Homo sapiens: one gene and its partner. The protein of the gene in region 1 purifies or fractionates together with the protein of each later gene. This does not show direct contact. Each region holds a gene or a part of one and is shown on either strand. Other genes may lie near its edges. The genes, in order: AXIN2 and RNF146.

Region 1 (16,557 bases):
GGAATTTTTCTTCTTCCAGTTCCTCTCAGCAATCGGCGTGGTCTCTCTGTCTCTCTCAAGTCAGCAGGGGCTCATCTGAACCTCCTCTCTGGAAAGAAAAGGAAGGGGGGAGGTGGGGAGAGAGAAAAGGGTATTGATCTAATCAAAACCAGATCTACCCAACATCAAAGCAAGAAAGTAAACAGGCTTTTCAACTCCTCAAATTCAAATCAAGCAACCCAGCTATCTGCGAGGTGCTCATCTAAAGTATCAGGCGCTGCTTTTCAAAAGCGAAATCTGAGCTCCCTGCACACTTTTCGGGGTTGGGGGTGGGAGGGAGCTGTTGGGAAAGAGGCGGGGAAGGTGAGAGGAAGGCAAGAGCTGGGGACGGCAGGGGGACACTGGAGGTGTAAGACACAACCTTCCAAAAACCCACTCGGCCAGGGCGCACGCAGGGCAGCTCAGCCCGCGCCTCGCCTTCCCTCCCTTCCCCTCCCCCGATACCATCAACTCCAAAAAGGCGCACTCCCAGCCGCTAGGCTGTGTGCAGGTGAAACCAATTTCGGTATATTTCCCCACTCGGCCCTGCACAGATAACTCGAGCTCCAAACGTGCCCTTCCCCGGCATCTGGTTCCCATTCTCCCCACCCACCCCCTCCCTCTGCGCTCCCTCTTCCCACTCCTTAAAAATTCAGAAGATCCTGGCCCAAGAGAAGCCCGCCCAGCATAGGCGGATTGGGCTCCCGGACTCCCAGATTCAGCACGCAAACACCCCCTCCCCAACTCAGATTTGAGTGTTCGCTACGCGCCCCCTACCCCCACCAAGAATCCAGCTCAGTCAACACCTCTGTCTTCCCTGACCTCCCCCCAAACCAGAAACCAACTCACTCAGGGGAGACTTTCATCTTCAAACTTTGAGAGAGAGCTGAGAAGCCTCGGAACCGTCGCCCCCGTGCCCCCAACCCACCTCCCGGATCCGCGAAACCTACAAAACTGGATCACCAGCCGTCTCACGCCACTACTGCCTGTGCCAAGAATCCCAAACTCTACTGATTTCAAGCCTGTCTTTTTTCCAAAGAAAAAAGTCTTATCTAACCAATAAACAAGCTGCTTTCCCTAGCACGGAAAAGATCAAACTAAGAAGGGTAGGGGCTGAACGGGGTGCAACCCCGGGCGAGAAGCCAGGGACCCCGGATCTGGGATGGGTGCACGCTGAACCCGACCAGAGCCTCGAGCCGCGGGGCTGGGCGGCGCGGCCCACGGAGAAGTGGGGCTGCCGTTGGCACCGCGCTACCCGGGCGGTGGGAGGTGGAGCGGCCCCGTTACCTGGAAGACGAAGGCCGCCGAAGCCAGGCTCTCATGTCCTCCGAGCCCCTCCGGCCCGGTCCCCCGGCCCAAATGCAACTGAACGCCTCCAGAGCCCTGGCGGGCACACCTCGAGGCCGGAACCCCGGGACACGCCAGCAGCGCCCCGAGCCCGGGCGGGGGGTCGGTCCCCGGCGCCGCCGTTTGCAGAGGCGCCCGCAGAAAAAGCACAGAAAGCAGCAGCCTAGTCCAGAAATGGCGACGCGCGGAGTCTCTGCCTCTCCGCAAAAGGGGCCGGGGCGGCCACGGGCGAGGGGCCCGGGCCGGGAGGAGGGACGCGAGGGACACGGGCGCCCCGGACTTGGGCCGGTCCTGCGCGCAGACTGAGCCTCCGCCAGCGCTGTGGGCCCCTTAGCGCGGACCCGCGGCAGGGAGGGGAAAAGGGGAGGGGGAAGAGAAGTAGGAGGAGAGGATGGGGCGGAGGAGAGGCGGGGGGCGGGGGAGGGCAAGCGGGGGGCGCCGCTACCCTTTCATCCCACCTCCCAAAGGCACTCCCGCGCGCACTCACACGCCGACTCACATCCATAACCGCGACAGCGACGCGACCCCCGGGGGGTATCTGCCCCCTCTCCGCCCCCGCCACTGCCGCCACTCGGATAAGTCTCCTCTCTGGGCCCCCCGCCAACCCGGTCACCGCGCTGGGGAGGGGGCTCCGGCGCAGGGCGCGCAAGGCTGCCCGGCCAAGCCCCCCGGAACGCTGGGCGCCGGGTCCGCCGCTCCCCTCCGCGCCGGCCCCTAGCGCGCCCCGAAATAGCCGGCCTGCCAACTTCAAAGGGCCGCCCCGCACATCAAAGCGCGCGGTCCGCCCGGCCGCCTCGGCCTCGGCACTCACCATTGATCCCCGCGCGCGCTCGGCGGCGAGACCTCGCAGGCGCCCCTGGCAGGGGCCCGGCCCCGGCCCCCGGCTCGGCTCGCGGCGGCAGCCCCGGGCCCCCCCGGGCCGGCCGCGGCGTCGGGGAACATGGGGAGTCGTGCGGCGGGGGAGGGGGTGCGGGAAACAACAATCCCGGGTTCAGAGCGAAAGCCACCGGCCGGGGAGGGGGAACGGCGCGCCCCGCCGCCCCTTTTATGCAAAAGATCCGAGCGGGCCTCCGCCCCCGCCCGGCCCGGCTTTCAACGCAGGTCCTGTTTCCAGCAGTCACTCGGCGCACCAAATGTCCTCCGGGCGCTTCCAACAAAAACTGCGCTGTGGATTTAACTGTGCACTTCAAAGGCGCGAGCCGAGCGCACGGTCCTGAAAGGGAGGTACGCGCCGGCCGCGCCCCGGGCCGCCCCCCGCAGCCCCGCCACCGCTCCGCAGGGCCGCCCCGCCCGCGCCCCCCTCCAGGCCCGGCCTCCGCCTGGCCGGGCCCCCTCCCGCCCCCCGCGCCCACGCCGCGGCTCGGCGCGACCTCGCCCCCTGTAAGAGGGGGGCTTTCTTTGAAGCGGCTCCGCTGGGGCCGAGCTTCCACCCCCACCTTTTACAGCAGGGCCTTCGGCGGGCGCCTCGGCCGCCGGGCGGCCCCGAAATCCATCGCTCTGAGGGGTTATTTTTATTTCCCGGCTCTCGGGCTGTTACTGAGTTGCCAGGACCTTATCAAAGCGCAGCCGGCTCCAGCCGACTCCCCCGGGCCAGGCTCGCGGAGCCAGTGATCCCGCCGCGCCAATCACAGCCGCGCTCGGCCGGCCCGCGCCGCCCGCCTTAAAGGGACAGCGCCCCGCGCCCGCCCCGCCCCGCCCCGGCCCGCCCCCGCCGCACGCTCCGCTCCCGCGTTAACCCTTCCCCGGCCTCTCCTCCGCCCCCTGCCAGCCCCCCGCGGCCCCGAGGGCATTCTCAGCCCGAGTTCTGATTTCTTCTTTTAAGTTCTCCGGCCTCTTTGCTCCCGCCTCCTCCCCCTGCCTGCCCTCGCTCTCCCCGGCTCTGGAATGCAACAGTTTCTGGTAGCATTATGGCCATCGCAAGAACTGCAAGCAAGCAGATTTTTTTTTTTCTATCATCAAACGCTTTTCTACCTCTATTCAAGTTTCCCTGGGAATTTGGGCTTGGAGGACTTTATAAAGGGAGTTCCGGCCCTGGGGTTGGCTGGCCCGCTGTCATAGGGCGGACTCGGGCCCAGCCGCTGGAGGCGTGTGCATGCCTGTGCGCGCTTGTGCACGTGCATCTGAGTTCGGGTAAATATAGGACTGCAGTTGGTGGATGAATTGCGTTTGTGCATGTGTGAAAGTGGGGTGTGAATCCGCCAGTATAGGCCTGAGTGCTAACACCAGTTAGGAGGCATACCTCAGTGCCCTGAAGACCTAGGTCCAGCTTCCTAACCTGCTGGCCATAAGACCCTCGTAGCGGCACACATTGGCCATCTCTCCCAAACAACTGCATACCCGTTACTCTTCCAAAGTCCCCTCTTCTGCCATATGTTACATATTAAACCGATAGGAATATCTTTTTTCCCACTCCAAACGACAAGGCATGCATGCCGTTTTAATGTATCGAAAACTCCTCACCCCATTGTCACCTTTGAATTTCTCCCACATTTGCCCAAAAACGTTTATAAGGCACACACAACCTTCTCTTCTCCGTTAAAATGAGAAAATATGTCACAAACCCAGAGCATTGTGTATTTATTCTGCTGCTGCTATAGAATGATTCCTTATGTTATGAGCGAATAATTAACTTTTCTTCCTTTTAAAAAACAAAGGGCCGGGGACGGTGGCTCATGCCTGTAATCCCAGCATTTTGGGAGGCCCATGCTGGAGGATCATCTGAGGTCAGGAGTTCGAGACCAGCCTGCCTAATATGGCGAAACCCCGTCTCTACTAAAAATACAAAAATCAGCCGGGTGTGGTGGCACGTGCCTGTAGTCCCAGCTACTCGGGAGGCTGAGGCAGGAGAATCGCTTGAACCTAGGAGACGGGGGTGGGGGGGTTGCAGTGAGCCAAGATGGCACCACTGCACGCCAGGCTGGGTGACAAAGCGAGACTCCCTCAAAAAAAAAAAAAAAAAACACACACACACACACACATAAAGGTGTGAACCAAAGAGATCCAAGAAGTGAAAGGCAGAGTCCTGGCCTCAGAGCTGTGCAAGGCTCTTACTCTCCAACTTAATGGATGACGAGCCCTTTTAAATGCGAGATGGCCTGTCATTAGGCCTTCAGAACTTTAAAACATGCAAGAATTGTGGCTCTATCTAGGTATCCATAGAAAAAGAGAAGGAAGAGGCTGGGTGTGGTGGCTCACCCGTGTAATCCCAGCACTTCGGGAGGCCAAGGCAGGCGGATCACCTGAGGTCAGGCATTCGAGACCAGCCTGGCCAACATAGTGAAACCCTGTCCCTACTAAAACTACAAATATTAGCCAGGCGTGGTGGGGGGCGCCTGTAGTCCCAGCTACTCGGGAGGCTGAGGCAGGAGAATCATTTAAACACAGGAGGTTAAGGTTGCAGTGAGCCTGGGCGACAGAGCAAGACTCCATCTCAAAAAAAAAAAAGAAAAGAAAAAAAGAGGAGGAAGATCCACCACCCATGATCTGCTGGAAAGGGGCAGGTGGCAGGACTGTGCGCCACCTGCCCTCAGCCTAAGGGACTGTGACAAGGGACTAGAAAGCTCTTAGACTTTCTAGTCTAAGACTCTGGACTCTGGCTCGTGGGTGCCATGACAGGTGGCCGCTCCTCCCCAAAACCTGCCTTTCGGTGCCCATGGTCTGCAGCTCCAGGCTCTCGACCCCAGGCAGCCAGGTTGGCATAAAGACAGCAGTACCAGCCCTGAAATGTGGCCCTGAAGCCAGCCAGGAAGGCCAGGGAAAGAGTGTGGCCCGATGACTCATCTTTGCCTTAGGACAACTGCTGGTGTGAGGAAACCAGTGGGCTCTAAAAGCCCCGGCCTGCTGGTATTCTGGGGGGTCAGTGGCCCATGGACCCTCTTAGCCACCAGCTCTGAGCTGGCCCAGGGCCAAGAACACAGCCACCACCTTTGGCCACCCCAGGAGTGCCAAGAGTAAAACTGTCACTGTGGTTCCAGGGAGTCTTTGGGCCACAGAGGGTGTTATTACTGGAACAGAAATGTAGACAGAGGGGTATGGATTGCCATAAAAGTGTCTACCATATAAACAACAGTAAAGTCACACACACACACACACACACACACACACACACACACACACACACAATGTGGGGGGTGGGGGAGAGAGAAAAATCAAAACATCTAAAATCAAAATAAACAATGTTCAGAAAAAAGAGGTTTTCAAAAAGGAAGTGGAAACTTGGTCTTTGTGGGTGGTTTTCCTCTCCTCCCAGTTGTCCCCACCGACCCGTCACTGCCTCCCCCAACCAGCCCTAATCACTGTAGGCTCAACTTTAACCAAAGGACTACCTCATTATCCCATGGCTGCGACTGTAGCAAGAGGGGACTGGGACTGGGACTGGGGACCCAGGAGCAAGGCCCGGTTTGGTTTGGATCTTCTCGGTCAATAATAACTGCTCTGAGGGCCGGGGTGCAGTGGCTCATGCCTGTAATCCCAGCACTTTGGGAGGCCAAGGCAGGTGGATCACCTGAGGTTAGGAGTTCGAGACCAGCCTGACCGACATGGAGAAACTCCTTCTCTACTAAAAATACAAAATTAGTCAGGCATGGTGGCGCATACCTGTAATCCCAGCTACTTGAGAGGCGGAGGCAGGAGAATCGCTTGAACCCAGGAGACGGAGGTTGTGGTGAGCCGAGATCGTGCCATTGCACTCCAGCCTGGGCAACAAGAGCAAACTCCGTCTCAAAAAATAAATAAATAAAAAATAACTCCTCTGAGAGCATGGTTTCCAGAACAGGTGCTCGGGTCACTTTAGGGCAGTGACTCCCTCCACCATCACCCCTGGCCTGTCCCCTTTCCTACAGCTTTATATCTGGTGGGACACTTCCCTCCCAGCAGGAGGCTGGGCCAAGTACTGGAAAGCCCTCTCTCTAGCCTCTGGGTCTCTGACTACTTGTTGATAATATTTCTAGAGGAGAATCCAAAGTCCTGTGCTTATAGCAGCCCGTTTCTCAAGATAGCACGTTTTCCATTTTCCCCTTGTCCCTGGCAGCAGCGCTATCATGTGACTTGTTGTAATCCTGCACGGTTGCCTGGAAACTGGAAAGCAAGGTGATGGATTTCTGCACATGCTCACTCGCCCCCCCGCTCCACCTTTAAAGAAAAACCCTACGGAGGATAAACAGTCCACTTTGCCTAAGTGCAGACAAGTTTAATAAAGCAGAGAGTGATTCTTTGCTGGAATTATATACTGGGCTGAAATCCTAGAATCCCAGAAAACAAGGACTAAGGGCTCCCTGGGAGGCATCTGGCCAGATCTCTGACCTTTAGTCAGCCCCACAAAAACCACTGTGGAGGGGAAGTCACACCAGCTGGGACTTCAGAGGAGCTGAGACCCAGGACACTGCTCTCTCAGATTCAGTAACTTTGTCTTTTATTCCTTTGGAAAAGTGCTGCCTTAGACAATGTACCTTTGTTTGGGGAGGAAGGTGAAGAGAGACACAGGTAACCTTTCCTAAGACTGGAGGTTACCTAACCACACGGAGTTTCCATTTGTTCACCTGTAGACTGGAGGAAACCTCCCCTGCAAAGGCTGTTGTGAGCCTGAGCAATACGATAAATGCCTGGCACAGAGCTGGACACACAATAGAACATGGCGGTTATTTTCACAGAGTAAGTCTGTTCCCTCAATAGCCTGTTACCTATTCTGGGAAGAAACTCCCTATCTCCAAAGCAAAGATACCGTCCATTGGGAGTGACGATCTGGGGAAGAATGACCCCAGGAGGCTGACCATAGGGGGCCTAAAGGAGATAAAGGAGGCTGTGCCCTGCTACCATCTTTCAAGGATAGTCCTATGCAGAAAGAAATAAGCCCAGGGGCCATTCAAGAGTTATCTAGTCCAACCCTTCATTTAAGAAACCAGACAAATTGGCTGGGTGTGGTGGCTCACACCTGTAATGCCAGCACTTTGGGAGGCTGAGGTGGGCAGATCACCTGAGGTTAGGAGTTCGAGACCAGCCTGTCCAACATGGTGAAACCCTGTCTCTACTAAAATTACAAAAATTAGCTGAGCATGGTGATGCATGCCTGTAATCCCAGCTACTCGGGAGGCTGAGGCAGGAGAATCGCCTGAACCCGAGAGGCAGAGGTTGCATTGAGCGGAGACTGCGCCATTGCACTCCAGCCTGGGCAACAAGAGCGAAACTCTGTCTCCAAAAAAGAAAGAAAGAAAGAAAGAAATCAGACAAATTAAGCAAAGAGAAAGTGAGATTTCCCCAGGATCACTTTGCCCATATCAGAGATGAGCTGGAACTTCTGAGGGGTCCTGACTCCTGGCCCAGCCTCTTTTTCCTCCACACCATAGTGAGGAGACCCAGGGAGGGGCTGGCTGAGATGGAGGGGGTGAGACCATCTGGAGGTCTTGACTTTTACAACAGGACTAATACATACAATCTGGGATACTTTCCTGAAAGAATCACAACAGGGCTTCTGTCTGAAATCCCTCTAAGGCACGCTTCATCCAGCCCCTACCTGTAGGTAGGTTGCCTTGGCTCTGCCAGCTGGGCTACCCACAGCCTGATCTGGGACAGTTTGACCCACGTCTTTTAGAGTGGCAGCCATTTACATGGGCATCTCCGTGGAGTTGATCCACCTAAGGAGGAATGGACCTACTTCCTCTCCCCTTTGCAGAGGAGGGACTGGGAATGCCAAGGTGGAGATTTTGAAGCCACAAGGGGAAAAGTAAGGTTTCCCTAAGAAATCCCATCTTCAAGGCCAGGTGCAGTGACTCACACCTGTAATCCCAGCGCTTTGGGAGCCCAAGTAGGTGGATCAGCTGATGTCAGGAGTTCAAGACCAGCCTGGCCAACATGGCAAAACCCCATCTCTACTGAAAATACAAAAATTAGCCTGGTGTGGTGGCAGACACCTGTAATCCCAGCTACTCGGGAGGCTGAGGCAGGAGAATCATTTGAACCCAGGAGGCAGAGGTTGCAGTGAGCCGAGATCGTGCCACTGCACTCCAGCCTGGGCGACAGAGTGAGACTCTGCCTCAAAAGAAAAGAAAAGAAATCCCATCTTCAGAAGTGTTGGGGGAATTTATTTGTTGATAAAATATCTTTTTTTAATATGAAATTTAAAACACAGTTAAACAGTAATTTAAAACTTCCTAATTGGACTGACTTTCAAGTGCTTTTATTATGGATTGTAAATAGAGCTGCAAACTGCTGATTTTTTTTCAGCATCTCACCCTTCGTGGTCTTCAAGTTTGGCTTTTAGGAGTTGGCCTGAGCTTGTAACCAGAGGAGAGCACCGATATACCTATATTAAAACAAATCCAGAAAGAGGTTTTGCTTTCTTTTTTCTTTATTATTATTATTTTATTTTATGTATGTATGTATGTATTTATTTATTTTTGTTTTTTGAGATGGAGTCTCGCTGTGTCGCCCAGACTAGAGTGCAGTGGCATGATCTCGATTCACTGCAACCTCCACCTCCCGGGTTCAAGCAATTCTCCTTTCTCAGCCTCCCAAGCAGCTGGGATTACAGGCACCCGCTACCACACCCGGCTAATTTTTTTTTTTTTTTTGTATTTTCAGTAGAGATGGGGTTTCCCCATGTTGGCCCTGTGATTCCCCCATCCTGACCTTGTGATCCGCCTGCCTTGGCCTCCCAAAATGCTGGCATTACAGGCATGAGCCACCGCCCCCGGACCAGAGGTTCTGTTTTCTTAAGTGATCTTCTCCACAGTGAGAGACACCAAAACAAAGGGCGAGGTTGGGGGAGAAAACAGCCCCGAAAGGTCATTTTTAGAAAAGGAACTGGAAAATAGAAAGGAATCCCCCTAAAGTCGTCACGCCAACCTGCGACGCGTGTTCCTAAACCGCCCCCCGTAGACATTTTTCTCACCTTCTGATATCTTATTTTGCTCATTTTAAACAACTTCTGGAAAGCAAAGTTTAGCTGAGCTTGAAATAAGTTGCCTTATTCACCTCTGGGCACAGTGGCTCATGCCTGTAATCCCAGTACTTTGGGAGGCCGAGGCGGGTGGATCACGAGGTCAGATAGAGCCCATCCTGGCTAATATGGTGAAACCCCGTCTCTACTAAAAAAAATACAAAAAGTTAGCCGGGCGTGGTGGCACGCGCCTGTAATCCCAGCTACTTGGAAGGGTGAGCAGGAGAATAGTTTGAACTCGGGAGGTGGAGGTTGCAGTGAGCCGAGATGGCGTCACTGCACTCCAGCCTGGGGGACAGAGCAAGACTCTGTCTCAAAAAAAAAAAAAAAGAAACCTGGGCCACATCTAGACTCCGCCTTCTCCCTCAAACGCCTCCATTCATTCACCCAGCCCTGTTGATTCTGCCTCTAAAAAAATCTCCCACCACCACCTCCTGCTCTGCAAATCCACAACTGCTATCAGGGCCCTTGCCAGGGACAGCCAAATGTTCTAATGATGCTTCACACCTACAGTTTATAGCCCTAACCCCTGACCCCCCTCACGCAGTGCTGCAATGGTAAACGCTGTGCAGTGCAGAGCCACCCATGTCATTCTCCTGCTTCAGATCCTCCCCGGCTGCACATAACCTTCAGGATAAGGCCCAGAACCCTATGTGTGGTGCACAGGTAGCCGGCCCAAGCCCAGGCCCTTTTCCAGCTCTATTTCTTTTTCTATCTTTTTTTGTTTGTTTGTTTGAGATGGAGGAGCCTCGCTCTTGTTGCCCAGGCTGGAATGCAGTGGCCCAATCTTGGCTCACTGGAACTTCCGCCTCCCAGGTTGAAGTGATTCTCCTGCCTCAGCCTCCAGAGTAGCTGCGACTACAGGCGCATGCCACCACGTCTGGCTAATTTTCATATTTTTAGTAGAGACGGGGATTCACCATGTTGGCTAGGCTGGTCTTGATCTCCTGACCTCAGGTGATCCACCCACCTCGGCCTCCCAAAGTACAGGAATTACAGGCGTGAGCCACCATGCCTGGCCCTCCAGCTGTATTTCTTGCTGACACCCCCTTGTCCCTACCATATGCATGGTGGATTGCCTCTCCTTTTCCTCCCTGGCCGACTGCCCTCCCTCTGCCACTTCTTCAGTCCTCTCCCACCTCATCCCCCGAGACCGGGCTAGAGCCCATCCTCCTACTTCTGTGGCATCTGGGGCTCACCTCTAGCAAACACTGTGGTTGATCTACTTCTCTGTCCCACCCACTCAACCATGAACTCTCTGAGGACAGGGACCGTGTTTTGTGATACTTGCATCCCTTGAACTAGATTGTGGGAAGGAGGGACCTGGGCGATATTTAATAGCTGGTGAAACCTGTGTACCGGCCAATCAGAACTGATACCAGCCTAGGGTCTGGAACAGGGTCTTGGAAACCCCCTGCCAGAGTCAAGCCAGTAGTCGCTGTGTCACGAGGAGCTGTGGTTGGCATCCTCTAAGTTGGGCCCTAATGATCCCTGCTTCCTAGTTCCACACCCTGCATACTTCCCTCCCCTTGAGCATGGATAGCATTTGACTCTCTCCTAATAAATAGAGTATGGCTGATGTGACAGCACATCCACTCCACATTAGGCTATCGAAAGGCTGCGATTCCTTCCTTAGGTGCTTTCCCTAGAATCTTGAGGCATCCCTGTTGAGGGACCCGTGTGACGAGGGACAAGCCCTGCCACCAACCAAGTGATCTCAGAAGCCGAACGCCACCTAGGCAAGCCTTGACATGATGCAGGTCCAGCTGCTGGCTTGCTGGTAGCCTCATGGAAACCTCAAGGAGGAGGCACCCGGCTAAGCCATGTCCAGATTCTGGACCCACAGATGAAGATGTATCCTCTGGGGAGGGGAGTGGTGAAAACTGACCTGCTGATGAGACTTCGCCCTGTCAGTTAACATTGCTAATGGTAAGAACCCAGTTGCAAGACATACAGGTTGTGAATCTTTTCTATACTTTATTTTTTTTATGTTTTCTTTTTCTGAGACAGAGTCTCGCTCTGTTGCCCAGGCTGGAGTGCAATGACGTGATCTCAGCTCAGTGCAACCTCTGTACCCAGGTTAAGGTGAATCTCCTGCCTCAGCCTCCCGAGTAGCTGGGACTACAGGTGTGCACCACCATGCCTGGCTGATTTTTGTAGTTCTAGTGGACACGGGGGTTACACCGTGTTGGCCAGGTTGGTCTCAAACTCCTGACCTTGAGTGATCGGCCAGCCTCAGCCTCCCAAAGTGCTGGGATTACAGGCGTGAGGCACCATACCCGGCCCTTTTCTGTACTTTATGAAATGACAGCACGTTGATGGTCAATGACGACAAGCATAAGCTATTGGCAATAATTATCACATATTTGGGCCAAGCCCAGTGGCTCGCGCCTATAATCCCAGCACTTTGAGAGGCCAAGGCAGGTGGATCACCTGAGGTCAGAAGTTCGAAACCAGCCTGGCCAACATGGCAAAACCCCATCTGTGCTAAAAATACAAAATAATTAGCTGGGAATGGTGGCAGGCGCCTGTAATCCCAGCTACTTGGCAGGCTGAGGCAGGAGAATCCCTTGAACCCGGGAAGCAGAGGTTGCAGTGAGCCGAGATGGTGCCACCGCACTCCAGCCTGGGTGAGAAAAGCCAGACTCCATCTAATGAATAAATAAATAAATATCACATATTTGAAGTTCTTCAAAGGTTACTGGAAATTTCTATTGAAATATATCAAAATTCTAATAGATTAAGAAAGAAATATCAAATTATTTTGAGATGTTACTGAGTTACAGGATAGAGACATTTGGTCACACTCAAAAGCAATATTTGCTTTGCCGCCACCTTTTTCTTCCCAAATGGAAAGAACTCACTGGTCTAGGAGGTAAATGTGAATAGTCCTTGCAAGCTATTGCATTCGAATTAGAGGAGAGGAAATGCATCTTCCCTATGGAGCGACTAGGAACCTGGGAGAAAGGGGCTAATAAGAGGATCGTGTGACTTAAATGTGATAGCAAAATTAGCGGGGACATGGGCTAATTCTATGCATGATGATGGTTTTTAGAAAGCAGACCTCGGAGTCCTTGTCATTGAATTTAGATGGGAATTGGTGGGGGCGGGGATTGGCGGGGATTGGGGGAGAGGATTCCTGAATGGTGTGGCTCAGAAAGACTTTGAAGAAATCTTGGTATTTGATGACCCTTTTAATGACAGTGTGCCCTGGGAGTATGTTCTCTAAACAAACAAGGAGAAATGGTCTACAGATCAGTATGGTTGAATGTTAATAGCTTTCTTAGCAAAAACATTGCTATCACAAACAATAAAATGTGTAGACTGGCCAGGCGCGGTGGCTCACGCCTGTAATCCCAGCACTTTGGGAGGCTGAGGCGGCAGATCACCAGGTCAGGAGATAGAGACCATCCTGGCTAACACGGTGAAACCCTTGTCTCTACTAAAAATACAAAAAATTAGCCGGGCATGGTGGCACGTGCCTGTAGTCCCAGCTAATCGGGAGGCTGAGGCAGGAGAATCGCTTGAACCTGGGAGACGGAGGTTGCAGTGAGCCAAGAATTCGCCACTGCACTCCAGCCTGGGCGACAGAGCGAGACTCCATCTCAAAAAAAAAAAAAAAAAAAAAAAGTGTAGATTGAGACTCACCTCCTGGTAATCATGCTCTTTTGGTAAATACTTTTGCTGATAACTTTTGAGTATAGAAAAAGATACAATAATTATTGAAACTAGAAAATCTATCTTGATAGCTTCAATGAATCACCCAAACACCTAAGGGATGTTGGGGGAAAAAAAATTGGTCAGGTGCAGTGGTGCACGCCTGTAATCTCAGCACTTTGGGAAGCTGAGGCAGGGTGGATCGCTTGAGCCCAGGAATTCAAGACCAGCCTGGGCAACATGGTGAAACCCCATCTCTATAAAAATACAAAAATACAAAAATTAGCTAAGGGGGGCAGGGGGAGAGAGAGCATCAGGATAAATAGCTAATGCATGGTGGGCTTAATACCTAGGTGATTGGTTGATAGGAGCAGCAAACCACCATGGCACACGTTTACTTATGTAACAAACCTGCACATCCTGCACATGTATCCTGGAACTTAAAATAAAATAAAAATTAGTCAGGTGTGGTGGCGCACATGTGTAATCCCAGCTATTCGGGTCAGGGGGCTGAGGTGGGAGGATCGCTTAAGTCCAGGAGTTTGAGGCTGCAGTGAGCCGAGATCGCACCACTGCACTCCAGCCTAGGAAACAGAGCGAGACCTTGTCTCCCTGAAAAGTAAAAAAATAAAGAAAACAAAAGAAAGAAAGAAAAAAAGAAAAAATTCAGTGAAAAACAAGTATTGAGCTAGCCCAGCTTTTCAGATAAGGAAGACTGGAGCAAGACATCCCACCAGCTTCAACGGGTCAAGCGGAGTCAGGTTAGGTGACAAGGCACCACCCCCACTGAAACGAGTCTTTCTTTTTGCAAACTGCCTTGTTTTCAAGACGCTCAATTTGTTAAATGCATTCATCTGTCTACCTTTGTATAACTTTTCACAGGAATCCATTGGTTCACAAAGCAGAAAATGATCAAGACCTGGCAGCCTGACTTGGGGGTCAAAAAATACGGTCACAAAGAGCAGAGTGCAGTGAGTAAGGGGCTCCATCCCCACCTTCTCTTCTACTCCAAGGTCAGAGAAGAGCCAGAGCAATTTGTAAGAGCACAGAGGTGTGAAAGGCAGGTGCCAGACGTGGCCTGTCCAGGGAAGGAGGGGGAGGTAGGGTCGCTGTCTGCAGAGTGGATACTCGGAGAATGCCCTTGGGGACACCCTCAGCTGTAGAACAGATTCCCGAGGTCAAGACCAAGAAAGGCACCAGGGCCACCCAGGAAGGGAGTATGGGGCGCCATGGGGTGGCCTCGGGACTTCACCCATTTCCGCTCGCTCAGGCAGCCACCCACTTTGTGCAGGTCCAGCAGCTGCTCCAGCCGAACTTGGCTTATCTGTAACAGACCTGACCCTCCCCCACTCCATTCCCATCCCTTGAACTTTGACCTTTTCTCCCCAACAAAGGCCACCTGCTTTCCTTTCTCTCGCTGTCCCCAGGAGATGCCCTGCTCTGAATTTCCCTGTGAAAAGGCATCAACCTCAAACTCTACAAGACAATGGAGGGTCTTGCATACGCCTAGGGAGGCAGTTGTGCCTGGGAACATGGGGCTGGGCCTTTTCTTGGGGAGCCACGGTGGCACGAGGAAAGCAGGCACCCAAGGCAGCGGGCACTGGGGCCCCAAAGTGGAACCCAAGAGCAGGGTCTCTGCCCTCAGCAGCCCCCAGTCTGGGGGAGGGTGGGAAGAGGACACCGATAATCCCCGTTTTGATATTTTTTTGTGCCACATGATCGGCAGGAAAGGTGAGACAGACACAGGGCACAGGAGAGTTGGAGGCTGTGGGCAGCTGAGAACAGGAACTGCAAAGACCCCAGGCAAGAGGAAGCTCTGCCTTTTCCAGAAACTCATAAAAACTGAGAACCAGGGAGAGCAGGGAGGGAGAAAGGTGAGGTGGGGCAGACTGGCCTAGGCCGGCTTGGCAGAGCACTGTGGGCCACGGGAAAGTGGTGTTTTCTTTATCCCAAAGTGTCTGGATAAGCCAGGGAAGTGTGGCTCAATGGTTCAACACAGAGGCTCTGGAAATGGACGGCCCCGCCTCCTATGGAGAGTCTGTCATTCCTCTGTGCCTTGGTTTCCCCAAGTGTATAATGGAAGGAATGGCAATGCCTGTCTGGTGGGTTGTTGGGAGGATTAGACGAAGAAGTGATGCAGCTGAGCGTGGTGACTCACACCTGTAATCCCAGCATTTTGTGAGGCCGAGGTGGGCAGATCACTTGGGGTCAAGAGTTCAAGACCAGCCTGGCCAACATGGTGAAAACTCAACTCTATCAAAAAATACAAAAATTAGCCAGGAATGGTGGCATGTGCCTGTAGTCCCAGCTACTCGGGAGGCTGAGGCAGGAAAATCGCTTGAACGGAGGAGGAGGTTGCAGTGAGCTACTGCACTCCAGTCTGGGCGACAGAGTGGGACCCCGTCTCAAAAAAAAAAAAGAAAAGAAAAGAAAAGAAAAGAAGTGATGCAGTAAAGCAGTTAGAACCCCCCTGATGCCCAGGGAATACCTGGTAAGGGTTAGACATCTTTAGAAAAAAAACAAAGAGAGCAACCTGGCCTAGGGCCCTGCTCCCCTGGCTGGGGAGGCCCTACAAGTTATTCGGCTCTTAAAGATGCCCCTCCCTTCCCTATAAAGTGGGAATGAAATATGACAGATTTAAGGTGAGGTTTGAATGGAAATAGTCTAGCCAGTACATTTAGTTTCTGAAAGATGTAAGTGCTCAGCTTTCTGGCACAAATGGCTTCCCAAGGCCCGTAAAGGTCTTGGCGCACATTTAATCTTTTCACTGCTCATTGCAAGTCTTCAGCTAGGGGTAGCGGCTGCAGCCAGGTGACCCCTGGTGAGTCTCCATCAGAATGTGCCCACTCCCATGCTCAAGTCTTGCTGTGATGACAGTGGGGACTTCTAGGTACTTGCAAATGGTCACGTGTTCTTTGAATTCAGGAGCCCTGAACCCTGTACAGCATCACAGCCCCCAGCTTTGCTAGGTGCCCCCATCACCACTACCCTCCAGGCCTTCCTCTGGTGCCAAACGCTGCATTGATGTGTTCTATAATTTTTTTTTTTTTTTTTTTGAGATGGAGTTTCGCTCTTGTTGCCCAGGCTGGAGTGCAATGGCGCGATCTCAGCTCACTGTGATCTCTGCCTCCTGGATTCAAGCAATTCTCCTGCCTCAGCCTCCGGAGTAGCTGGGATTACAGGCCTGTGCTACCATGCCTGGCTAATTTTTGTATTTTCAGTAGAGATGGAGTTTCACCATGTTGGCCAGGCTGGTCTTGAACTCCTGACCTCAGGTGATCCACCTACCTCAGCCTCCCAAAGTGCTGGGATTATAGGTATGAACCACCACACCCGGCCTTGTTCTATAATTCTTGTTCCTTCTCCCAAGAGCTGTAAGATGGGCCCCAGGGGGCACCCAAGACCAGGTCCAAAGGGGACAAAGGAGGGGATGCACAGAGGTAGGAAGCCACAGTGAACCTCTCTCGAAGTATTTGCTACCACGTGTCTGCATGCAGCCCGGGCGAGGCTGTTTGTATTGCATATATGAGGTGCTGGGTTTTTCTTTCTTTCTTTTTTTTTTTTTTTTGAGACGGAGTCTCACTGTCGCCTAGGCTGGAGTG
Region 2 (16,322 bases), on another chromosome or scaffold:
TAGAGACAGGGTTTCACTGTGTTAGCCACGGTGGTCTTGATCTACTGACCTCGTGATCCGCCCACTTCGGCCTCCTAAAGTCCTGGGATTACAGGCGTGAGCTACTGCCCGGCCATGTGTGTATTCATTCATTCATTCATTCATTTACTCATTCATGTAACACATATTTACAGAGAACCTCTTTAAGTGTGTCAGGCACTATTCCTGGCAGTTGAGATACAAAACAGAACACACATTCCTGGCCTCCTGTGTCTTGCGTCCTAATGTGATGAGAAATATGATGAAGATTAGTAAGTAAAATAAATTATCCATTACACTGTGATAAGTATTAAAAAGTAAAGGAGGAAATATGAAATATTGGGAATGGAAACATCATGACTTAAAATATGCTGACAAGTAGAGGGACTGACTGAAGAGTTGGACATCTGAGCACATATGGAGGGAGCATGATGGGGAAGAGTGTTCTAAGCAGAGGAAACCACAACTGCAAAGACTATGAGGTTGGCAGCTTGTGGAGAGCTTTCTGGGAATACAAAGCTGGGTAAACAGTCTGTGGGGTCAAAGAGGTAATGAGGGGAGGATTTTAAAGCCATCGTTAGGACTTTGGTTTTTACTTGTGTTGGGAAGCCACAGGAGACTTTGAGCAAAGGAGTGGTACGATCTCACTTCTTTTTAAGTAGATTTATTTAGGATTCTGTATTAAGGATAGAGTCAAAAGACTAGTTCCTGGTCTACCGTAACACTATAATCCAAACAAGAGATGATGCAGATTGTAGCGGAGGTGGTAAGTAGTTGGATATACTTTGAAGGAAGAGCCAACAGGTTATATGCCAAATGCATATAAGACATAAAAGAGAGGAGTTAAAGGTGGGTTTGAACAAGGAAAGATGCAACCATTTACTGAAATACAAAGACCTTGGGTATGAGTGAGAAGGGGTTGAACTAGCTGACATCTTACAGTCTGTGCCTGGATTCAAATCTCAGCTGTGTGTGTCTCTCTCTCTGTAAAATGGGAATAATAATAGTGCCTACCTCATAGTTTATTATGAGAATTAAGTGGGTATATATGAATAAAGCACTTAGAGCAACACCTGGCACATTGTTAGTTAATATTAGCATTACCTCTTCAAGCTGGAATCTTCGAGTACATATCAAATTTTAGCTATTCTCTGTTCATGGGCTGTGTAGGATAGAGGGACAAAACTGAGTGGCTAATAAGAAGATAAAGATAGAAAACTAAGCTTAAAGTTAAAGGATATACACTTCAATATTTCTACATGTATGGAACAGTATTGCATACACGCGCAAGCATCACTGAACTAGATGCACCCTTCAAGAGATTGGGTTACATATTGATATATATGAATGAGAACCCTGAAATAAACTGATTTCAGAGGAATAACAGAAAACATATACATTTCTATACCTATAAGGACACTGAAAACTTCCAATCCTGAATCAAACAGTTAATGAAATCCCAAAATGCAACACTAATGCAAATGAGAAGACGCTGTCATAGAATGTTGAAATACATACTCTTCTAAAGATAAAAGGTCTGCTCTTCCACCCTCTTCATTTTCCTACAAATTAGGAAAATTTAATCAGTTCTGAAAAAGGAAATGTACATGCTAAAATGGTGAATTACTGCTAGAGTTCTGATGTTTAAAACCACAGGCTTGCGATCAAAATAACCTCTTTAATTTTAGATTATCATGCAGATTAATTTCTTCAGTTTCTCAGGCACTATTCTGTTTTTTTTAAAAAAAGGGTGGGGTTTCAAAAGAAAACTAATACTCATTTTTTCCCCGATTAAATTGCTCAACCATTAAAAAGGAGAACAAATTGGAAAGTCCTACAGTACTCTCTCCCCTCCGTCCCCCCCCTCCCCATTTTTTTTCTTGAAAGGGAACAAGCAGTACTTTTGCTAAGGGATCTTTAAGCCGAAACTCAGCTAGGCGCCCCAGAGCTTCCTCAGGATAGCAAAGCTGGATTTTTGAGCAGCACCACCTGCTGGTCCTACACACGTTTTACTTCCTCCACCCCAAATCTCTTTCTGTTGGAACTGCACTCTTTCAGAGCCTCTGGGCCCTAATACAAAGCAAGCACACTCTAAAGAAGCCAGAAGAATGCAAGCAGCGAAGTCGCCGCTCCCCACAGGCAAGAGAGTACCGGCAGACAGCGGCGCGAGACAGGGGCAGAACGATGAGGCGCCGGAGTTAGCTCGCCGGTGCGGGTGCGGGTGCGCGGCGCGTCGCGGCCCCTCCTCCGCGACGCGCCGGGTGGTCACGTGACGGCCGCGCGCGTTCCCGGCAGCTGCGGGCTCCGAGGCCAGAGAGAAAAGACTGCGAGGTGGCCGCAGCTGTGGCCGGAGAGGTGGGAGTCGGAGCGAGGCCCTCTCGGGGGAGCAGGGTGAACGCCGGCCACTCTAGGATCCTCACTCGGGGAGAGGAGGCATAGCTCGCGGTGTCACCTCCAGCCGCAACGTACTCCGGGTCGGCCTTGCGCTCGGGGCCTGAGAGGGGCGGCGGCGGGGTCAGGGGCCGGTACGTAGATGGACGCCCTTGGGCTGGCGCGGCCCCGGCTGTCCGCGCAGAGGCGGGATGGGACAGTTCAGCCCTTTCCGCCACCCCCGCCTTGGCTGCTGGGGCAGGCAAGACGACCGTGACAGCCCCTGCGCTGCCCGAGGGCGCCGCAGCCCCTGCCCTGGGTGACGGCCGGAGCTGGTCTCGGTCCGGGTGCGAGGGGCGGAGCAGCGGCCATTACTGCGCAGCCTCTTCCGCCTGAGCCCGCTTCGCTGCCTCGGGTGGCAGGCGGGTCCCTCTCCTCCCCTCTGGGCCGTGGTTTTAGGCCTTTACCCGGGGACCTTCTGGCCTCGAGGTGTAGGGGCGGCGATGGTTTTTCGGCGGTAGCCTGCTCCATGTTTTCCCGTGTGGGGTCAGACAGTTTGGGCCTTGGGTCAGATCGAAGCCAGGGCGTACAGTCTGCATTTTTGCCTTTTCCCGGAGTGTCTCTGGCTGCTGCTTTCTCTTCTCTCGCTCTTCCTCCTTTTTTTTCTCCTGCTCAGTGTCTCGGTCTTGCCTAAAACGAAGAGAGCAATCCCTGCACCTTGTCCTAGTGAAGCCCAGCGCTGCATATTCTTAGTTGTTTTTGACGGCTGTTGAAGCATCGGAACAATTAAGAGATCTCAGAATATCCCTTGAGCCTCCAAACCCTCTGCATCTTAAAAGCTGAGGCTGTTGCTTTGTTCTGATTGTTGGGTGGGGAGTTCTCTTCCTACCCTCCATCCCGTCTGAAGGAGTGTGGGTCTTCCATTGTTGTCGCTATTTATTTTGCTAAGGCTTCTAAAGAATGTAAAATTGTTTTAAGAGTGGAGACGGAACCGTCCTCTCCACAGGTAAAACCTACAGGACTGTAAGTTTACACACACATCCTGGCAACTAGAATCTTTTCTCGTTAATCATATTGGTATATGTTTTAATTTATTTTCTCTAAGTGCCATTTTAGTGAGCACTTATTTCTCAAGTTTTGAACATTTTGTTTAATATTTTTGTAATATCGAAACAGTGTAGAACTGAGGAGAGAAGAAAGCCCAAAGATGATAGGGTACGCTTTGTTCTTTGTATGATTGGCATTTCAGGTAGTGGGCACATCCCCCCCACCTCGTGTGTGTACTTTTCAAATGGGATGTGAACGTATAATATTGGCATTCAATCCAGTATATAATTATAGAATTTGGAAGACTTAGGACATTTTAGTCAGTGAATCTATATTTAGACTTTTCAAAGACATGGCACGTAAGGACACGTGGAGAAAATGTCCCACACAGATAACAGGATTTGTGATTTTGGCTTTGCTGTTTTATGATTAGCAAATATTGTTTGTATAGAGTGTCTGGGTGCCCTAAAAACACATGAAAATAGGTCAACTAAATCTCGTTTTAAAGAGAAAACCGGAAGAGTGAACACCACTCTAAAAATAGATTTTGGATGTGTTTGTTTTGGTGCCTTGTATATCTTAAAGTGGAGGATGTTGTTCAGCCCAATCTTTCATTTAGAATTTATGTCTCAAATGAGCCAGTGTATCATGTGGGCAGACTGGAAATACATTTAAATATTTTTTTTCTTCGCTGGTTGTTCAGAACTTGGTAGAATTATAATTATCAGGAAAACTCTCTCCAAATAGCTGGTCTTTTAGACAAGAGAAGAAAAAAGAAATAACTTCTTTTAAAAGGAGATGTCAACTTACAAAGTGTTTTGTTTCAGTCTCCACCAACCTAACTTGTCAGAGGAAAGGAACAGACTTTTTTTTTTAAAGGATCCAAAACGATATTTTGAGTCAAAAGAAGAAAAGGATATTAAATCTTTTGTTTTCACAATATCGATCTTTTTAAAGAATATTATTTTATATGTTAACCATATACTACCAGGAAACATCTAACAGCACTGACAGTTGGGAATTCGAATGCGTATTTTTCTCCCGTGTTAGTAATAGAAGGTACTGAGCCTTTTCCATTCTCTTGGTTGCCTTGTGCCTGAGGAATCTGAATTTGTGAAACAACATCTTTGTGGATATAGAAACTAATTTATGTAACACTTGGCTACAACCACCTGTGCTTACTTACGGACTATCTTTAGTTTTCATGGCGTGTTACCTTTTGGGTTAATTCAAATCCAAAATGTTGTTAACGGACTGCTAATTAAAGCATTTAGAACTTAGAATTACAGAATTATAGAGTAGGATGAGATAACAAAAGACTGGGGGTTATGACTTGACCAAGGTCACACAGATAATTTGCCAAAGAGCTTTCTTATTTATGAAATGGTTGCTGGCTAAGAAACATCTGTGTGTGATATGATTAAAAGACAATATTCGTTCACTTTTACATCTCATGTTTTGAAATAAAATGCAAAGCTCACTTTTTTGTTGTTTTGAGAAAAATTAAAGGGTTTAATGGGCTAGTATAAAGATTGTGAAGGCAGTAAGTAGACTGCCACATAGTAACGTCTTAAAGGGAAATAATTCTTTAAAGTATCAGACCCCATTTAGTTGAAATGAGTTTTGTCTGAAGTTTCCAAGTATGACCTATGCTTTTTCTTAGCTAATTTTTAGCAGGAGATGATGAGGGCTAAAAATTGAGACATTAGGGCATTTAGTTACATCTCTCAATTTGTGACTGGTTTATAAAAAATACTAAGATGTGTCTGCTAACTCACACCTGATTTATCTACTCCTTTTATGTATATATAATTTTTTTTGAGTTGTGTACCAAAAGTTGGAACATTTCAAGTATTTTTTCTTTCTGTCACTGAGTGATTTCATGTAGAACATTTACTGTTTTGTGTATTTTGAATAAATGGCAAAAATCTTATTAAACATTAGCTGTTAATAATTAGAAAAATACAGTAAGTCTTCAAATATTTATAATTGATATTTGTCTTTGTTTTTATATGTATTTATATTGATGTTATATGCTCATCTTTTTCTTTGATTAAAGATAATCGCTTGCTTGAATCTATTACCTGAAAAAAACTCTTGACTTTGATCTTGTGACTGACTTGAAAAGTGGGAGTATGAGTATTTTGAGTTGTTACAAATTATAAATGGTACAATATTACTTCATTTTTAGTTGTATTTATTTTTCACTTATTTGAATGGGTCAAGATTTAAATTCATTGATAATCCCTAAACCCCTTTGTGTATTTTTAAGTTTTACCTGTCACTGTTTTTTTCCTCCAGAATTGTTAGGGGCAAAGTATCTAATTTGGTTTTAGACTTTTTCTTTTTTTTATGTTACCTTCTTCATACATCATCATATTAAGTTTGGTGTAAAATTTACAGGTCATTCATTCCAGTAGGAATTATGTATGTTTGAGTTATTTATGTTTGGCAAATTAATTCTGGCCTGTAGTTGAAATCATACTGTTCTGTTTTACATCCCCCTATTGGTTAAAATAAAAGCATCCCTTCTCCTCCAACTTTAAAAAAACTTTGGTTTCAAATAATGTGGGAGTTTTCTGAGGGCTTCTTCACATGATTGTTATAAGTATTACATGTATGCCCTATTTTGTGCCCAGTTGAAATTATAGTTGACCATTGAACAAAGGTTTGAACCGTGTAGTTCCACTTATACAATACTTTTTTTTTCTGCCCCTGCCACCCCTGAGAGAGCAAAACCAATGTTTCTTTCTCGTCCTCCTGAAAAAGATGAAGGCCTTTATGATGATCCATTTCTACTTAATGAATGTAAACATATTTTTCTTCCTTATGATTTTTTTTTTTTTTGAGATGGAGTCTTGCTCTGTCATTAGGCTGGAGTGCAGTGGTGCGATCTTGGCTCACTGCAACCTCCACCTCCCAGATTCAAGAGATTCTCCTGCCTCAGCCTCCCAATTAGCTGGGACTACAGGTGTGCGCCACCATGCCCAGCTAATTTTTGTATTTTTAGTAGAGACGGGGTTTCACCATGTTGGCCAGGATGGTATTGATCTCTTGACCTCATGATCTTCCTGCCTCAGCTTCCCAAAGTGCTAAGATTACAGGCGTGAGCCACCGCACCTGGCCTCCTTACGATTTTTTAAATAATGTTTTCTTTTTTTTAGTTTATTGCAAGAAAACAATATATAATACAACATACAAAACATATATTAATCCACTGTTTATGTTATCAGTAAAGCTTCCAGGCAATAGTAGACTATTAGTAGTTAAGTTTTTGGAAACTCAAAAGTTTACATGGAATTTTGACTGCGCAGGGTGTAGACATTCTTAACTCCTCACATTGTTCAAGGGTCAACTGTATAAATTCTGAGAGTTAATAGGTGATGGGTCAGTTTGGCAGAATTGGGGCTACCTAAACCCATTAACTTTGATTATAACAGAATATGCAGTTTTCTTTTTTAATGTGTCTTCGGCAAAAGTCTAGGTAAATTAACATTGAATTCATTGTCTCTATTAAACAATTCCTGTAGTGACTTGTCAGTTTTGTATTTAACAAGATTAATATGCAAGACATTCTAGACCAGCATTGCCCAGTAAAGTAGCCACTAGCCACATGGAGTTATTGAGCACTTGACATGTATCCAGTCTGAATTAAGTTGTGCTGTAAGTGTAAAATACACACTGGATTTCAAAGAAGTATGCATACGCTTACCCAAGAACATAAAATATTACATTAACAATTTATATTGAAACATACTGAAGCAGTAATGTAGAAACGTTGGATTAAATAAAATATATTATTGAAATTAATTTTACCTGTTTCTTTCTATTATTATTTTTGTAGAAATGGGGGTCTCACCATCTTGCCCAGGCTGGTCTATAACTCCTAGGCTCAAGCCATCCTCCTGTGTCACTACCCACAAAGTGCTAGGATTACAGATGTGAGGCACCATGCCCTGCCTCTTTTTATTATTAATGTGGCTAATAGAAAATTTGAAATTGCATACGTGGCTTGCATCATATTTCTATTAGATAATACGTGACCTTTTCTGTGAGAGACAATACATTGTAGAAAGACATTTTTAAAGGTAAATTTGAATTTGAATCGCATCTCCCAATATTGATGGCTTTGACTTTGGGTAAGTCATTTAACTTCCTGAGCTTAGGCTTCCTCATTTGTGAAATAGGTATAGTCATATTTCACAGGGTTGTTTTGAGGATTCAGTGACATATGGATTTGGTAGTGTTTCACTAACTAATATATGTGAATCACTTGGAGATCTGGTTCTGTAGGTCTAGGGTGGCACTTAGGATTTTCATTTGTGAAGAGCTCCCAGGTAGTGCTGATAGTACTAGTTGGGAATCCCAGTTTGTTTGTATAGCTAGGATCTAGAGCATTATGTTAGTTTTAATTCATTTTCCTTCCCCAGCATTTATCCAGTTAGTCTGCACTTTGAAAAAATTATTCATGAGGATATAGAAATTGAAAAAGTCACCAAAGCATGCAAGATTTACTAAAATTATATGAACTGTGGACTCTTAGGGCTGCTGTAGGATTCCTGTTTACATCTGTTAAGTTTTTTGTCTGCTTTTATCTGGAGTCACTTTTATTGGTTGCATAAGATGGCTAAATCTCAGCCAAGAAGAACCTGGTTGTGTTGTTCTACGCAAATGTATTTTTGAAAGATAATGCATAATGAGAGGTGAAATAAAAGAATGCTCAAAGACAATAAGAGGGCAGTACAATTGACCCTTGAGCAACATGGGGTTAAGGGTGCCAACCCCTTGCACAATTGAAAATCTGAGTATAAGTTTTGACTTCCCCAAAATTTAACTACTAATAGCCTACTGTAAAGTCAGTTAACACGTTGTTTGTTATATGCATTACATACTATATTCTTACAATAAGCTAAAGGAAAATAAATTCCTAAGGAAGAAAAAATACATTTACAGTACTGCATTTACCGATACTGTGTTTATGTTACCTGTTTATAAGGTGTCTGTCTGAAATGATGGGTAACTGCAGCTGCAGACCCATCTAGGGTGTGTACCAGGTAATTTAACTTCTTGTAATGGCATGACTTCTTGGCTTCTTGGGAGCACTTCTAGCATCACTAGTGGCACTTCACATGGGTCCCATGGTGTTATTCAAGGTTTATGGTATTGTACTAAACATGATGAAAAATACACAAGAACAAGAGATTACATTTTACTCCAATACATGCAGAGATGATTAGTGTCCACAGCATTTTAAGTGGAAATTCATAATAGCAACAGGAAATTATTACAGTATGTACTACAATTAATTTTATACAGCTATGATTCATACTGCATCTTTACATTTGTTTAAATTTCTTGTACCACCTCAAGTGGCACCATATGTGTCTGTGTTTACTAAGTTTTGATACACTTTAACTTCTTATAATTTCTCTATATTTTATAATACTAAATGATAAAATAGACTATATATGTTTTATGCATTCATAATATACCTAATTTTTTCTTTTCCTTTTTTTGATGTTTCAAGACTACATGATTCATCTGCAAGTTTTTTCAAATTGTCACAAATCTCCAAAAAAATTTCCAACATATTTATTGAAAAAACTGTATGTATATAAGTCAACTTGTTCATTTCCAACCTGTGTTGTTGAAAGGTCAGCTGTATGAGGTTATCGTCAAAGATCTTTAAAGAAAGAAATGACATCATCAATATTTTGAAAATTAGAGAAAGCCATTTCTAAAGGAATCCTAGAAATGACTTCAGGCCAGAATTAGAAAAAAAAAAATTGAAGAAATAGGCTAAATAAATATGTCTTTGGCTGTGTTCTTTTGAAAATGGCATTAATGTATAGAAAGATACTCGAATGTGAGTTATGGTCACTGATACATTCTTTTGTTTACTGCTGAACATAACTGGACTAGAGGAGTGTAATGAGGGCAAGGATGTTCTTTCTGTTGAAGGAGAAAGTTTATATTGATGGAAAGTCATTATTCATAGATACTTTGCTGTTATTTCAGTACTATTAAGTAAATAGTTCTCTGCTCCTGGGTTTGTGTGTGTGTGTGTTTTCTTTATAAGGGGCTTTTTCAAATAATTTTGCTATTGATAAGTTACTTGAATTTAATCATTAGTCTTCAAATAAGGAAAGCAGAATGAGAGAATGCATCTCCTTGAATTAACCAGATTTTTTTTTAGTACCTTTGTTCTAGTGGATATGTAGCAAAGCTTTTACTTTAATATTTGTGGCTATAGCTTTATTTCAGCTATGTGAAATAGTTTTATAGGAAAGATCACAGCTTATTTGGGTGTTCAAATATGGGTTCTTTAGAGGATTTTTTTGTACTTATTTTGAAGCTGCTTTGTTTCAGTTAACTTAGATTCCTTTAAGAATCAACTTTTGTTTCAGAGATAAAATATTTATGGATAAGACCTAAGTAAAGTAAGTGAATAGAGAGGAATAAATTAGATTGGTTACAGATAATGTGTAAATGCATTCAGGAGATAAGGAGAATTAGAAACAAGGACATTTTTTGTGTATTTCTTAGGAATAAAATGGTACCTTCTACACATCTCAATTATTAAAGTACAAATAGTGATTGAACGAAATTTTTAGAAGAAATGTTTTAATTGAATCTTCACACTAGAGGTTTTACCATTCAATCAATTAGGTTCTGAGAAGGATGGATTGGTACATCTTAAAAGACTTGTAAGATAGCGAAGGATAGGCAGTGCTAATGACCAACAGCAACACTCAGCAGGACTTTGTGGACCAAAAAACTTCAAGTTAGAATTGTGGGTAAAGGCTGGGCATGGTGGCCCTCACCTGTAATCCCAACACTTTGGGAGCCTGTGGTAGGAGCATCACATGAGGCCAGGAGTTTGAGGTTTAAGTTACCTGCAGTCATACCACTGGACTCCTGCCTGGTTAACAGACGCTGTCTCTTAAAACAAAACAAAACAAAAGAATTGTGGGTAAAGTAAGAGCAAATTGACTTTTGAGTGATGGTCCGAAAACCTTTGTGATGGGTAAAGGGTAGAATGTCTGTATAATTTTTCTGAACTGGAACACTTGTTGGGAGACCAAGGGCAAACTGGATAGATGCTGGGCTGACCTATGTGGTCATCCTAGTGAAGAATCATAAGCTTTATTGGGGAAAGAGCTTTGTGAAGCTGTTTTGGCTGTTCAGAAACCCATCTTGGTTTATGCTTAGATTTTTATCTCCATTTTGGAGAATTCATTGACAATGAACAATAGCTGGGTAAATGATTTGCTTGCCAAAAGATACAAAGATGGGTTGAATTTTATATTTGTAAATGTAGGAACTCCTTTAGATTTTAAGTTATATAAAGCAAGGATTAGAACTTAGATATTTTTATGTATCTTACAGATTCCAGCTTGAGTTCACAATTAGAACTCAAGTGTTGTGTTATTTGAATAAATCTAATCCTTTGATATTCTGTTCCTCACAATAGTTACTTTTAGGAGTTGATTTTTCATTCATCCAAAAAATATCAGTTCAACAAAAATTGATTGACAATTTACTAGCTATTTAAAGATATAAAAATCTCCCTATCTTCAGGGGATTCATGATTTCACAGAAGAGTCAGACTTCACAAATGAATTGAAATTAGTGCATGTGATAAATTCCGTAATAGAAAAACATACAAAACATAGAGGAGAGAACAGTTAACTTTCTGGAGGTAGTCAGAGAAAATGGTAGAGATAACCATTTCTGTGTAATATATTAAAGAACAAATAGGCATTCATAAGCTGTAAAAGGGAATAGATCGTACCAGGCAGGAGGAAATACAGAGCTACAAAGGGAGGTTTGCAGGACTATGAGTAATTTTATACAACTAGATTATTAATCTATGGGTGGTTGTTGAAGATAAAAAAGACTAGAGACTAATTATTTACAGTTTAGATCTTTAAAACCTTTTAATGTTGTCCTAAGGAGCTTTGTCTTTATTGTGTAGGCTGAGGACCCAATATTGTGCTTCACATATGGAAGAAACCTGGTCCATTTTGCCTTTTAAATATATCAGTCAGTCCTAGCTACTTGGGAGGCTGAGATGGGAGGATCGCTTGAGCCAAGCAGTTTGAGGTTTTAGTGAGCTATGATCATGCCACAGCATTCTAGCCTGGGAAACAGACTGTAGAGTGAGTGTATGTGTGTGTGTGTGAGAGAGTGAGAGAGAGAGAATCTCACTCAAAGGCTTAATAAATGAGGGTGATACTGACACAAGATAATCAGGCTGAACAATAGTCCAGGTGAGAGTTATGTAGGTTTAAACTAGGGCACTAGCAATGGGTAGAGAGTACAGGATAGATTCCAAAGGGATTAGGAATAAAAGTTGACAGAATTTATGGTGTGGTTGGTTGGGGTGGGGGAGCAGGGGGCTGTGTGGTGAGAGAAAGGACTTTCTCTTTTTCTCCATGAACACAAAGTAGTTAAGACATGAAACCTGAGATGTCATATTGTAAGAATTATGCAGAAATGGGGGTTTGTAAAATGTGTGTATATGAGATAAAGATATGAGGGGGCCAAGGGTTCTGTTAAGAAGTAAAAAAGATTGGGTTCCAGAATGGGCAGGAAAGGAAATGAGATCAGGAACTGGATAAAGGAAAGGAGATGGTCAAGAGATGGTAGGTCCCCATGAAATTGAAGAGCAGGTGTGGGAATGAGTAGGCTGGAAGAACCAGAGCTTGTGATCTGAGAGTCGGATTAAGATTTCAGAGAGGCAGCAGTTTAGGTGACAACTAGCTTTAAATGTGATTATAATATTTGGTTGCTGGAGAGTAGATTAATTTCTTCAAATTTAGGATTTAAGGAACTGAAAATTGAGGATGGTGTTTCTCAGATTGTATTTGAAGGACTAAAGCATGAGTACCACCTGGGGTGAGATTCCTAGGTTTAAACCTATGTCTACTGGCCTAGAATTTCTAAGGAAAGGGGCTGAGAATATGTATTTCTAACAAGCAATTTCAGTGATTCTGATGAATAGAAGTTGGGACAAGTTTAAGAACCTGTGCAATAGGTGTTGGATGGTTCATTTTCAAGGCTATTTAAATAGGCTGATAGTCATGTCAGGAGTTAGGATGAAGAGGATGATCAGTAGTGAAAAGATGACATTAATCCCTTACAGGTGGTGAGAGAGCAGTTTTAGGGGATTATGGGGTATGTTAAAGTCAGTGTGATAGAGACTTGAAAGAAAAAGTAATGATGTTGGAGCAGTAAATTGTCTCCTCCTGTCCTATATATAGGGAGTGTATGAAAATGTGCAGTTTTCTGTTTGGCGTAGGCTGCAGCAAGGAAATGAACATAGCCTTCTTTGATGCCATTGAAGTTGTAGGCTCCTTGAAGTTGGTGAAAGGGTTGAGAGGAAAGTCAAAATAGTGGAGTCCATTTCATCTAAAGTCAGAGTAAAACAAAAAGGTTACTTAGAAACCTTGTTTAGTCAGTATATTAGGCAGTGTTCTCTAGGGGGACAGAACTAATAGAATATATATATGAGTTTATTAAGTATTAGCTTACACGATCACAAAGTCCCACAACAGGCTGTCTGCAAGGAGCAAGGAGAGCTAGTCCGAGTCCCAAAACTGAAGAACTTGGAGTCTGATGTTCGAGGGCAGGAAGCATCCAGTACAGGAGAAAGATGTAGGCTGGGAGGCTAGGCCCATCTTTCTTTTTCACATTTTTCTGCCCGCTTTATATTCACTGGCAGCTGATTAGATTGTGCCCACCAGATTAAGGGTGAGTCTGCCTTGCCCAGCCCACTGACTCAAATGTTAATCTCTTGGCAACACCCTCACAGACACACCCAGGATCAATACTTTGTATCCTTCACTCCAATCAAGTTGACACTCGGTATTAACCATCACAGTCAGTTACTTTTGAAAGTTCTCTGATTTTAAAACAAATTGTTTGTTCTGTTAAACATTTGGTAGGATAAGTCAGCTTGTATTTAGGGGCCACATAATGGCATTAAGAATATGTTTCTTTAAACACTAGAATCTTAAGATACCGTAGGGAGATAGATGCCCATAGTATGAGAGCCACATGGAAATAAAAGAAGATTGAAGTCTCCTCTATCTTGTGTTTACTGTGAGATCTATCATTTCTTTAGTTATCATGTGTTCTTGATTATTCTGTGTAATATGATGTGCGTCCTGTAGTGGACATGGTGAGGTGGAGATGGAAATACTAAATGAGAAGAAAGAAGATTAATGACTGAGATGGTACAGGTTTTTAAGAGTACAATTCCATGTAGTTAATTTCATTTACAATGTTATGCAACTATCACCATTATAGATTTTCCACAACTTTTTTTTAGCATTACAAACAGAAACTCTGTACCCATTAGGCAATAACTCTCCACTTTCCTTCCTTCACTCTCTGGTAACTTCTGATACCTTCTGCTTCTATGAATTTGCCTATTCTTGATATTTCATGTAAGTGGAATCATACTTTTCTGTATGTGGCTTATTAGTATGTTTTCAAGGTTCATCTATATTGTAGCACATATTTCTTTTTATTACTGAATAATGTACTGTTGTATTTATAGACCACATTTTGTTTATCCATTCATCTGTTGGTAGATACTTGAATTGTGTCCACCTTTTGCCTAATATTTCCGCAGTGAATATTGGCATACAAGTGTCTGAGAACCTCTTCAATTCTATTGCTATATCCCTGGGAGTGGCATTGCTGTGTTAGCTTTTTGAGGAAGCAACAAATTATTATTCACAGCAGCTACACCCTTTTACCTTCCTACCAGCAGTTTTCAAAGGTCCTATTTTTCTACATCCTCACCAACACTTATTATTTTTCCCTTTAAAAAAGTTGTAGCCTCCTTATAGATGTATCATTGTGATTTTGATTTACATTTCCCTAATTACTAATAATGTTAAGGATCTTTTTGTGTGTTTATTGGCCATTTGTGTATCTTCTTTAAGTTCTTTACTCATTTTTTGCTCACTTTTTAATTGGTTTGTCTTTGTTGTTGAGCTGCAGTTCTTTACATATTCTGGATATTAAACCTTTATCAGATACATGATTTGCCAAGATACTCTCCCATTCTGCAGTTTGTCTTTTTATTTTCTTAACAGTGTCTTTTGATGCACAAAAATTTTAAACTTATATAAAGCCCAATTTATTTCCTATGTTTCTCATGCTTTTGATGTCATATCTAGGAATCCATTGCAAATCTAAGGCCATGAAGATTTGCTCCTGTGTTTTCTATTAAGAGTTTTATGGTTTTATTTCTTATATTTAGGTTATTGATTCATTCTGAGTTAACTTTTATATATAGTATACGGTAGAGGTCCAGCTTAATTATTTTGCATGTGGAAATCCAGTTGTCCCAACAACATTAGTTAGAGGTGCCTGTTTTCCCCCATTGAGTAGACTTGACACCCTTTTGGAAAATCAGTTGGCTATTGATGTATGAGTTTATTTCTGGACTCTCAATTCTATATCATTGGTGTATTTATCTGTCCTATGCCAGCACCAAACTGTCTTGTTACCTTAGCTTTGTAGTAAGTTTTGACATTGGATTTTTCAAGATTGTTTGGGTTACTTAGGGTCCTTTGCAATTCCATATGAATTTGAGGATTGCTTTTCCATTTCTGCAAAAAAGGTTGTTGGAATTGTGATAGGAATTATGTTGAATCTGTAGATCACTTTGGGTAGTATTGTCATTTTAATATGTTAAGTCTTCCAATCCATACATCACTTGTCTATTTACTTAGCTCTTCTTTAATTTCTTTCAGTAATGCTTTATAGTTTTCTGTGTACAAGTCCTTCACCTCCTGGGTTAAGTTGATTCCTGGCTATTTTATTCCCTTAGTTACTTTATGAATGAACTGTTTTCTTGATTTCTTTTTTGGATTGTTGTCTCCTGGTGTATCAGAACACAACTGATTTTTTTGTGTGTCAAACTTGTAACCTGCAACTTTGCTGAATTTGTTTATTAGCTTTCTTGGGGATTCTATGAGATCTTCTATCTAGAGAGAATAGACATAGTTTTACTTCCTCCTTACCCGTCTGTATGCCTTTATCTCTTTTCCCTAATTTGCTCTGCTAGAACTTACAGTCATGTTGAATAGCAGTGGTAAAAGCATGCATCTTGTCTTTAATTTTTCCCACTTTTAAGATAAAGTTTTCCACTGAATTTTTTGAAAGGATTATACATAATTAACTGATTCTCTTGATCTTAATTACTCTTTTTTTCTTTTGCAGCACAAAGAATGAACCAGCAGTGGAAGAGAAAATACTGTAAGCTGGCTGACTGCTGGTGAAGAAAATGCTTTATTTTTGTGGCAGGCATCTGTGGGATCTGTAATAGAAATGTAAGTGTAGCATCATGGTTTTTTTCAGTGCTGCAGTAAATTAAATGGATTGGTTTAACGTGTGGTAAATTGAGTATCTGTCATATGTAGTTTTAATTATATTAAATGAGCATTTTCTTTTGACTTATAGGTGCTTTATTAACAATTTATTTACATTAAGTTATCGTTAATGTAGATTTCCAAGTCTCCTCAAAAGGAAAAGTCTCTATAAGAAAAACTGAAGACACAGGAGTTTGCTCAAAGAATGCTGAAATAGATCTCCAGGTCCTCTGGGTTCTACCTTCTTTTTACATAATAATTTTCTTAAATAACTAAGCTAGGCAAGTAGTACTAGCTTTTGTAAATAAGACAGACTACTAGGTTATAAAAACTCTAGTTACTAAAAACTTGTTTCACTAAATTAAAGGAATTTCTACATAATTGATTTTTTTAATGTAATAATACATCACTGCATTTTATTCATATCACTTCACTCTGATCCCCAGTTTTACTAGTTGTGCTTTCATCATTTATCTTTGCATGATATGCTTTAAA

The links.
Region 2: the proteins of AXIN2 (region 1) and RNF146 purify together in Homo sapiens (affinity purification with western blotting; 2 studies listed by BioGRID, with this or other methods). This does not show direct contact.

Annotation. Positions count from the first base shown.
Region 1 is NC_000017.11:65,558,649-65,575,205, forward strand, and holds the start of AXIN2 (axin-2), read right to left. Parts: upstream 3,001-16,557; 5' UTR 2,802-3,000; intron 2,530-2,801; exon of another isoform or gene 2,177-2,529; intron 2,092-2,176; exon of another isoform or gene 1,865-2,091; intron 1,670-1,864; exon of another isoform or gene 868-1,669; intron 89-867; 5' UTR 1-88. UniProt on the Homo sapiens protein: Inhibitor of the Wnt signaling pathway. Down-regulates beta-catenin. Probably facilitate the phosphorylation of beta-catenin and APC by GSK3B.
Region 2 is NC_000006.12:127,264,553-127,280,874, forward strand, and holds the start of RNF146 (E3 ubiquitin-protein ligase RNF146), read left to right. Parts: upstream 1-2,311; 5' UTR 2,312-2,373; exon of another isoform or gene 2,374-2,543; intron 2,544-15,678; 5' UTR 15,679-15,786; coding exon 15,787-15,788; intron 15,789-15,963; exon of another isoform or gene 15,964-16,322. UniProt on the Homo sapiens protein: E3 ubiquitin-protein ligase that specifically binds poly-ADP-ribosylated (PARsylated) proteins and mediates their ubiquitination and subsequent degradation. May regulate many important biological processes, such as cell survival and DNA damage response.